Linked DNA regions of Homo sapiens: region 1 is linked to region 2. Evidence: fine-mapped expression QTL. A gene starts in region 2. The other region holds a variant in brackets. All regions are shown on one strand. Distances are from middle to middle.

Region 1 (5,000 bases), 70 kb before region 2:
ACATTTTCAATTCTATGTCGCCTAAAGAAAAACTTCCACAAAGATTTAGTCACATATACGCTCATTGCATCACATTTAATAGTAATTAAAAATTGGAAATAACCTATTTCTTCCCAATAAGGACATGGCTTTAAATTAAGGCATATCCAGTCTATGAAATATTGTTTATCTATTTAAAACAATAAGGAAAACTTACAAGTAATGATGGAAAGGTTGCAAGGACATATTAAGTGGGAAGAATAAGAAAACACGTGGTATAACAATGTATACAATATCCCTGTTTATGTTTTTAAATGTTGTTATATGCATACCTATAAATATATTGAAATATCGTGCTCACTTCAGTAGCGCATATACTAAATTTGGAATGATACAGAGAAGATGCACAAAATAATTAATATATTGAAATATATGGCCGAGCACGTTGGCTCACGCCTGTAATCCCAGCATTTGGGAGGCTGAGGCGTGTGGATCACGAGGTCAGGAGTCTGAGACCAGCCTGACCAATGTGGTGAAACCCTGTCTCTACTAAAAATACAAAAATTAGCTGGGCGTGGTAGCACACGCCTGTAATCCCAGCTACTCAGGAGGCTGAGGCAGGAGAATTGCTTTAACCTGGGAAGCGGAGGTTGCAGTGAGCTGAGATCGTGCTACTGCACTCTAGCCTGGGAATAGAGCGAGCCTCCGTCTCAGGGAAAAAAAAAAAAAGATATAAAATAAAAAATGACTGGAGAATGACTGGAGAATACCTAATTGGTTGGACATATGGGAGAAACAAGGATATATTTCTTGGAAATAGTGTAGGAAAAACAAAGACAAGGAAACAGCTTTTTTTTTTTTTTTTTTTTGGAAACGGTCTTGCACTTTCGCCAGGCTGGAGTGTAGTGGCGTCATCTCGGCTTACTGCAACCTCCACCCCCCAGGCCTCAAGTAATCTTCCCATCTCAGCCTCCCAAATAGCTAGGAATACAGGCATGTGCCCCACACCTGGCTAATTTTTGTAATTTTTTTCGTAGAGACTGAGTTTCACCATGTTACCCAGGCTGGTCTCAAACCTCTGGGCTCAAGCAATCTGCCTACCTCAGCCTCCTGAAGCCTGAAGTGCTGGGATCACAGGCGTGAGCCACCGAGCCCAGCCGGAAACAGCATTATAAGAAAGGAAATATAGGGCCAGGCGCAATGGCTCATGCCTGTAATCCCAGCACTTTGGGAGGCCGAGGCGAGTGGATCACCTGAGGTCAAGAGTTCGAGACCAGCCTGACCAACATGATGAAACCCTATCTCTACTAAAAATACAAAATTAGCCAGGTTTGGTGGCACATGCCTGTGATCCCAGCCACTTGGGAGGCTGAGGCAGGAGAATCACTTGAACCTGGGAGGCAGAGGTTGCAGTGAGCTCAGATCGCGCCATTGCACTCCAGCCTGGGCAACAAGAGCAGAAACTCCATCTCAAAAAAAAAGAAAGAAAGAAAAGGAAATATAGAAAAGAGAGGAAAAAAGAAAGGAAATAGGATTCTACAAAGCACTGGATTTGTCCTGAACAATATTTACCAGGTCACAGTATTATAAACACTTGATTTGGTTTTTTTTTTTGAGATGTAGTCTTGCTCTGTCGCCCAGGCTGGAGTGCAGTGGCGCGATCTTGGCTCACTGCAAGCTCTGCCTCCTGGGTTCATGCCATTCTCCTGCCTCAGCCTCCTGAGTAGCTGGGACTACAGGCACCCACCACCACGCCTGGCTAATTTTTTTTTTTTTTTTGTATTTTTTTAGTAGAGACGGGGTTTCATCATGTTAGCCAAGATGGTCTCGATCTCCTGACCTCGTGATCCAACCGCCTCGGCCTCCCGAAGTGCTGGGATTACAGGCATGAGCCACCGCGCCCGGCCTCAGTTTTTATTTTATTTATTTATTTATTTATTTTTGAGACGGAGTTTCGCTTTTGTCACTCAGGCTGGAGTGCAATGGCGCTATCTCGGCCCACTGCAACATCTGTTTCCCAGGTTTAAGCTATTCTCCTGCCGCAGGCTCCCAAGTAGCTGGGATAACAGGCGCCTGCCACCACACCTGGCTAATTTTTGTATTTTTAAAAATGTAGAGACGGGGTTTCACCATGTTGGCCAGGCTGGTCTCAGACTCCTGACCTCAGGTGATCCCCCAGTCTCAGCCTCCCAAAGTGCTGAGATTGCAGGCATGAGCCCAGCCCAATTTCTTTAATTAAAAAAAAAAGTTAGTGTTGAAATGAGTAGAAACTTCCACGTTCACACACTCAGCTATGATTGTGCCTCTGCACTCCAGCTAGGGTGATGGAGTGAGTCCCTGTCTCTAACAAAAAGAAGAAAGGACTTGGCTTTCAGCCACACTGCATCCAGTTAGCTAACACAGGTACTCCTGTGCCTCTGTTACCCCTTTGGGTTTTAGGAAATGCTGTTTCTTCCTTTTTTATTTTTGTTTTAGTCTGCATCTTTCCTCATGTTGGCTTCCCACAGGTGACATTGCATTCCGGTTCCTTAATTATGTTCAGTCCCAGCATCAGAGAAAACAGAAGAGGCAGTTAAGGGCCCAACAAAATTTATCCTGGGAAGAAATT[G/A]CCAAAGAGTACCAGAATGAAGAAGATTCCTTGGGCGGGTCTCGTGTCGTGGTGTGTGACATCAACAAGGAGATGCTAAAGGTTGGAAAGCAGAAAGCCTTGGCTCAAGGATACAGAGCTGGTGAGTCCTGCAGAAGGCAGACACAGGGGAAGTATTTGTATCTTTATAGAATAAGGTGGAATATGTAAAATATTGAAATGCTTTATCTTTTGGCTTTCAGAAACTTATAGATGGGCAGGTTGAAGATGATTTGCATGGCTGAATCTAGTTTGTGTGCTGTTATATGCATTATGTATGCATAGCAGCCCATTGAGTGAGCTTACCCAGCCCTATGTGACTGGGATCACTAGATCCCAAGTAAGTCAAGAATCTTACCCAAGTCACACAACTTCTCAGTGGCAGATCCCAAATTGGAGTTGAATCTTCAGATCTCAGCTCTGAGACCCTGAGACAGAAGTTTTGCTGTCATTTCCCAGCAGCTTCAGGGTGACTTCGGTGTATCATTCCCATTCTTGAACCATTCCATTCTCCTGTCCATACTAGGATAGTTTGATTGCTGTGCAACTGGACCTCTCATCTCCTGTAAAGAAAGAACTTCTGGCTGAGCCCATGGCTCACACCTATAATCTCAGAACTTTGGGAGGCCACAATAGGAGGATTACTTGAGCCCAAGAGTTCCAGGCTGCAGTGAGCTATGATTGCACCTCTGCACTCCAGCCTGAGTGACAGAGTGAGACCCTGTCTCTAAAGAAACTTAAACAATAAAAAAAGAAATAACTTGCCCTTCAGCCACAAGGAGTGCAGTTAGCTAGCAGCCTCCACCTATTAGCACATCAGCCTCTGCCTCAGTTTCCAAGGGAGGCCAGGCTCTTTTGTGGCAGCTCGTAGCCAATGGCTGAACACTGTGGGACTACTAGGGCCTGGATATTTTCCAAGCAAGACTCTTTAACAGCCAGCCTTTGTTCTGGAGGTCCCTATTGGGTAGGCTGAGCCTTTGTCAGATCTGCATTAAGGTCTAAAGGCTTTTCTTGCTCAGTCTTTCTTCCTCTCCCTTTGTCTACTCTGTGTTTCCCCTGCCACACACACAAAAAATTATTATACTCCTTGGTCCATCTCAGCATGTTTCTCAGAGGACCCATCTGATACACTCAAAGAAACACTCGTGAACAGTACTCCTCACACTTCCCCACTGTGGTAAATACGAACAGCAGATAGGCAGATGACTGCATGCCTATCTCTGTGAGATTACTGCAAGCTCAAAATGGATGATTTGTGTGCTAGCTTAAAAATGTAAATTGTGGCAGCGAGGTGGCTCATGCCTGTAATCCCAGCACTTTGGAACGCTGAGGGTGAAGGATCGCTTGAAGCCAGGAGTTCAAGACCAGCCTAGGCAACATAGTGAGACTCTGTCTCTACAAAAAATTTAAGTTAGCCAAGTGTGGTGGTACACACCTGTAGTAACAGCTACTTGGGAGGCTGAAGCAGGAGGATCACTTGAATCCAGGAGGTCGAGACTGCAGTGAGCCATGATCATGCCACTGCACTCCAGCCTGGGCAACAGAGTAAGACCCTGTCTCAAAAAAAAAGCAAATTTGGCCAGGCGTGGTGGCTCACGCCTGTAATCTCAGCACTTTGGGAGGCCGAGGGGGGGTGGATCCCCTGAGGTCTGGAGTTCGAGACCAGCCTGACCAATATGGAGAAACCCTGTCTCTACTAAAAATACAAAATTAGCTGGGTGTGGTGACACATGCCTGTAATCCCAGCTATTTGAAGGCTGAGGCAGGAGAATTGCTTGAACCTGGAAGGTGGAGGTTGTGGTGAACCAAGATGGTGCCATTGCACTCCAGCCTAGGCAACAAGAGAGAAACTCCGTCCTGGCAACTGCACCCTGTTGGCCCAGTTTTTGTTGTTGTTGTTGTTGTTGTTGTTGTTGTTGTTGTTTCTGAGACAGAGTCTTGCCCTGTTGCCCAGGATGGAGTACAGTGGAGCGATCTCGGGTCACTACAACCTCTGCCTCCCGGGTTCAAGCAATTCTTGTGCCTCAGCCTCCCGAGTAGCTGGGATTACAGCTGCGCAGCACCATACCCGGCTAATTTTTTTGTATTTTTAGTAGAGACGGGGTTTCACTATGTTGGCCAGGCTGGTCTCGAACTCCTGGTCTCATGTGATCTGTCCACCCATTCCTCCCAAAGTGTTGGGATTATAGGTGTGAGCCACTGCGCCCAGCCCAGCTTTTCAGAGCCGCTATTCTGCCCTCTTCCATGCTGGCCAGGGACCACAGATGGCCACTGTGAGGGGCAGTGGTATATAACAAAGAACGTCCCTCAGGTCAACATCAGCATTTCTCTCCTTCTCCTCCCCCACCATGAGTGTCTATGGTTATTTTAGCTCAAATCTTCCTCCTCTTCCTCC
Region 2 (5,520 bases):
AGACGAGCCTTGCCAACATGGTGAAACCCCTCTCTACTAAAAATACAAAAATTAACCAGGCATGGTGGTGCATGCCTGTAATCCCGGGTGCTCGGGAAGCTGAGGCAAGAGAATCTCAAACCCAGGAGGCAGAGGTTGCAGTGAGCCGAGATCACGCCACTGCCTCCAGCGTGGGCAACAGAGTGAGACTCCATCTCAAAAAAACAAAACAAAACAAAACAAAACACATTTACTGAATACTCAGTGCCAACCACTGAGAACATGATAAGGAAAAACAGACATGCTGTGGAAGGTGGGTGAGCAGGAGAGGGGCAGAGACTCAACACATCCCTTAAATAGATGTATAAACGCATGTATAAATCAGCCCTTTTGGATATCACGAGAGCCACAGGTAGAGAACCTAAGTATAGCCAGGCACAGTGGCTCACGCCTGTAATCAGCACCTTTGGGAGGCTGAGGTGGGCAGATCACGAGGTCAGGAGATCGAGACCATCTTGGCTACGGTGAAACCTCATCTCTACTAAAAATACAAAAAATTAGCCAGGCGTGGTAGTGGGCACTTGTAGACCCAGCTACTTGGGAGGCTGAGGCAGGAGAATGGCATGAACCCAGGAGGCGGAACTTGCAGTGAGCCAAGATCACGCCACTGCACTCCAGCCTCAGCGACAGAGCGAGACTCTTGTCTCAATTAAAAAAAAAAAAAAAGAACCTAAGTATAAAAGAATGAAGACTTGTGGCTCACGCCTATAATCCCAGCACTTTGGGAGGCCGAGGCGGGTGGACTGTGAGGTCATGAGTTCGAGACCAGCCTGGCCAACATGGTGAAACCCCGTCTCTATTAAAAATACAAAAATTAGCTGGGCGTGGTGGCGGGCGCCTGTAGTCCCAGCTACTCGGGAGGCTGAGGCAAGAGAATCACTTGAAACCGGAAGGTGGAGGTTGCAGTGAGCTGAGATTGCACCACTGTACTCCAGCCTGGGTGGAAGAGTGAAACTCCGTCTCAAAAAAAAAAAAAAAAAAAAAGGAATGGACTTTTTTGGCCAGTGCAGTGACTCATACCTGTAATCCCAGCACTTTGGGAGGCGAAGATGGGCGGATCACTTGAGGCCAGGGGTTCGAGACCAGCCTGGTCAACATGGTGAAACCCTGTCTCTACTAAAAATGCAAAAACTAGCTGAGTGTGGTGGCGGGTGCCTGTAATCCCAGCTACTCCGGAGGCTGAGGCACAAAAATCACTTGAACCTGGAGGGTGGAGGTTGCAGTGAGCCAAGATCATGCCACTGCACTCCAGCCTGGGTGATGGGGCAGGACTCCACCTCAAAAAAAAAAAAAAACTTTCTTGAGGAAGTGGGAGGCTGAGGCAGGAGGATTGCTTGAGACCAGGAGTTTGAGACCATATGGGGCAACATGGCAAGACCCCGTTTCTACAAAAATTTTAAGTATTAGCCAGGTGTGGTGGTGCACACCTATAGTCCCAGCTATTTGGGAGGCTGAGGCAGGAGGATCTCTTGAGTCTAGAAGTTTGCGACCAGCCTGGGCAACATAGTGAGACCCCGTCCCAAAGGAAAAAGAAAATTGCAAAGTAGAGAAGACATTTGAAAGAATCAAACACGGCCAGGTGCTGTGGCTCATGCCTGTAATCCCAGTACTTTAGGAGGCTGAGATGGGTGGATCACCTTTGCTCAGGAGTCCAGACAAGCCTGGGGAACATGGCAAAATCCCGTCTCTATCAAAAATACAAAAAATTAGCCAGGCCAAGTGGCACGCGCCTGTGGTCCTGTACTTGGGAGGCTGAGATGGGAGGCTCTCTTGAGTCTGGGAGGTGGACATTACAATGAGCTGAGATCATGCCACTGCACTCTAACCTGGGTGATAGAGTGAGACTCCATCTCAAAAACAAATAAAATAAAAATTCAAGGCAGGAATAAAACAGTAACTACATAATGAGCTCACATTTTAATAAAAGAGATATAACAAATGAACAAAAGTCCATTAAAATGTTAGGGAAAAAACCCAATAGGATGAGTTACTAACTAGAAGGGGAGAAGGGATTTGGAGTGGTTAGGAGAGCCCTTTCTGAGAAGATAAGCTGAGACCTGTGCCAAGAGGGAGGCAGCCATGCAAATACTGAGAGGAAGGAAAAAAACGAAGGGCCAGTGCAGAGATCTAGAGAGGAAAAGAACTTGTCTTGCTGGAGAAGCAGTCAAGGTAGCCAAGGAGAGTACTGAGAAGAGTACGTTGGAGTGAGTAGGTAGGGACTCTATGGAGTAGGGCCTTAAAGGCGATGATTAGGCCAGGCGCGGTGGCTCACACCTGTAATCCCAGCACTTTGGGAGGCCGAGGCGGGTGGATCACGGTCAGGAGTTCAAGACCAACCTGGCCAAGATGGTGAAACCACGTCTCTACTAAAAATACAAAAAAAATAAGCCGGGCCTGGTGGCAGTCGCCTGTAATCCCAGCTACTCGGGAGGCTGAGGCAGAGAATTGCTTGAACACGGGAGGCGGAGGTTGCAGTGAGCCGAGATCGAGCCACTGCACTCCAGCCTAGGCAACACAGCGAGACTCCGTCTCAAAAAAAAAAAAACAAAACAAACAAACAAAAAAAAAAACAAAGGCAGTGATTAGCAGTTCGGGTTTTGTTTCCACTTACACTAGCGAGAGCATCAGTAATGAACAAGGGGAAGAGTGAAGCCACTGACTCGCGAGGTGACTGTGGGCAAGTTCCTGAATCTTGCTAACACTCTTTAACCCCCTGGAAAACTGTTCGCTAATCGTCACATTAAACGGCTGCGAACGGGCCACGGTCAAGGCTTCGGGGCTGCAGCCGCGAGTTTACCTGTCCTCCAGGACCGATTCCATGGGCTCCACCCCGTCTGTGTCCACGGCGCGTAGCCGGTCGGCGAAGGCGATAGCTTTCTCCAGTCGCGCCACTGCCTCGCGGCTGCCGAAGTCCACAAGCGCTAGACGCTCCAGGTGCTCGATCACCGCAGCCGTGATCCGGCCACTGCCCTGGAGGAGGGATGAGGCGGGGAGTGTGGGTCACCGGCGCTCCGAAGTGCCTCCCGGCTTGCTCCGCCACCCGCCTAGATGGCCCTGGCCTTTACCTGAGGATCCGCCTTGGAGGTGAAGCCCTGGCGCCCGCCCAGAGGGGCCCGAAGGCCCAGCCACACCAACCGCGACCACATTTCTTCCTTCCTTGGCCCCCGCAGTGCGCCCGCGCGTAACGCCGAGCGACGCGCCTGAGAGTGATGACATCAGAGTGCGCCGTCGTCGCCGCCGCCACCACTGTCGCCATGAACAGTGTGGGGGAGGCATGCACGGACATGAAGCGCGAGTACGACCAGTGCTTCAATCGCTGGTTCGCCGAGAAATTTCTCAAGGGGGACAGCTCCGGGGACCCGTGCACCGACCTCTTCAAGCGCTACCAGCAGTGTGTTCAGGTGAGCCCTCCCGCCTCTGTTCCCAGGCCCTGCATTCTCGGCGCTGTGTCCCACCACACTCATCGTATTTTACGGGGATTGGGACTGGACTGGAAGGGTGGAGAAAAGTCGCAGTGAGGCCAGTGGCAGGAGCTCGCTCCCCTACCATCACCACCGAGGCCACTTGGGTGTCTCTCCGAATGACAAATATTGGGGCAGTGCTTTTCAAGAAGCACAGTCACATCCTTTGGTTCATTTGGTGTTCACCCTAAACTCGCAAGGTGGGCATAGTTACTCATATTTTATACATAAAAAACTAACACCCAGAAATAGGAAGTGATTAATCCGAGTTCACTAGCATCAGGTTTCCTTGGTTCTTTCGCAGGTGGTGCACTTTTCCACTATTACTGCTGGGGTCTGGGCGGGATTATACTTCAGAATTCAGACTGGAGGGTCACATTTTTTTGTTGTTATAAACCCTTCGTTAGCCTGTTTCTCTCTCTTGACCAGTCCCCGCAACTGCAGCCAGGAAATGTTTATTCTGGCCCAATGGATGTGGAACTGCTTTGAATTGTTAAGAACAGCACCGGGCAAAGCACTTCCAATAAGTTAACCCAACACATCCTCACAGCAATTCCCCGAGGTAGTTGCTGTCTTCATCCCATTTACAGTTAGTCACATAGCCAGTAAGTCCTGGAACCCAGATTTGAACCTAAGTCTTTCACTAACACAAAGTGATGATTATTTTTCAAATTTCACTTAATTTTAACGGTTCCCTCACAACTCCTTTTCCAGTCTCCCTCAGGTCTTACACTTGATTTATTCATTATGGTACTTCTGGTTTTTATTTATTTTTGAGGCAGAGTCTCACTCTGTCTCCCAGCCTGGAGTGCAATGGCACAATCTCAGCTCACTGCAACCTCCGCCTCCCAGGTTCAAGCTATTCTCATGCCTCAGCCACCCGAGTAGCTGGGCTTACAGGCATGCGCCACCATGCCCAGCTAATTTTTGTATTTTTAGTATAAACAGGGTCTCGCCATGTTGGCCAGGTTGGTCTCTAACTTCTGGCCTCAAGTGATCCACCTGCCTTGGTCTCCCAAAATGCTGCGATTATAGGCGTGAGCCACCACACCTGACCGGTACTTGTTTTTTAAAAAGTATGTGGTTTGAATCATGGTTATAAGTCTTTATAATCAGCTTGATTTTACTTTTGTACTGTCATATTTTATTTACAAAGCTTGCAACTTAAGCTTCATGTAGGTCTTTATAATGTGTTTTCTCCTCCTACCAGAAAGCAATAAAGGAGAAAGAGATTCCTATTGAAGGACTGGAGTTCATGGGCCATGGCAAAGAAAAGCCTGAAAATTCTTCTTGACCTTGACAGTCACCTTGAAGGATTTCGCAAGTCCAGAAATTGAGGACTCTGGATTTTTGTCAACTAACTCTGTGAACATAGCCATCAGATTTGATGAGGAACTTAGGAGAGAGGAGTTTTATTTCCTCCTTCGATGTTTTCCTCTCAGTTGTAAAAGATGAACTCTTTGAGATGATTTCTCACCTGCTGTGGTATCTTGCAGGAACTGTGTGCTAAAATTGAACAATTTTTTTGAGATTATGGTTGCAATACTTGGCGTGGAATCAGCTTTACATAAATATACCTTGTATGCAAACGATGATAAACTAGTCAGGATGAGCAGAGCTGCCTGACCTCTTGATTTCTGCTGCAAAAGACATATACACTGTACTGGGGTCACTATTTATGAAAGCAATTGGTTAGGACCTCTTTTTTTCCTCTCAGGGAACTAATGCTCTGAAAAGGGATCTGGGCACAACAGTTTCAGTGAGTGCTTTTGAGCACACTTTTATTTTTATATAGTAACTAATGGTTAAGATTGATGGTGGCCTGGATTAGCAAAGAGGAAGACAGCTTTTAACACAGTTCCCTGCCTTCACAAGAGGTGTCAGATTAAGATGTGAAAGCTGCAAGAATGTTGCAGTGAACACCATTTCAGAGCTCTCAGTGTGCAGTTCAGGAATTAAGATACTTGGAATAGCTGTGGAGGAAGAACCTAAATTGCAAAGATCTGCTATTGCCAGCTCT

The links.
Region 1: its variant is fine-mapped to the expression of GATC in whole blood (INTERVAL, PIP 0.99).

Annotation. Positions count from the first base shown.
Region 1 is chr12:120,514,275-120,519,274 of GRCh38, reverse strand. COQ5 (coenzyme Q5, methyltransferase) reads left to right here. Exons shown (of 7, transcript NM_032314.4): 3 at 2,487-2,708. Among named protein-coding and RNA genes, the nearest start is that of COQ5, 12 kb to the left of the region's middle. The variant G/A (reference allele first, on the strand shown) is at 2,588.
Region 2 is chr12:120,444,146-120,449,665 of GRCh38, reverse strand. It overlaps GATC (glutamyl-tRNA amidotransferase subunit C), which reads right to left and starts at 3,222. Exons shown (of 4, transcript NM_176818.3): 1 at 3,105-3,222; 2 at 2,837-3,009. The coding sequence starts at 3,185. It overlaps TRIAP1 (TP53 regulated inhibitor of apoptosis 1), which reads left to right and starts at 3,282. Exons shown (of 2, transcript NM_016399.3): 1 at 3,282-3,440; 2 at 4,711-5,520. The coding sequence starts at 3,294. The coding sequence ends at 4,794. RefSeq lists enhancers at 2,407-3,252, 3,086-3,380, 2,978-3,527, 2,742-3,941, 3,253-4,100.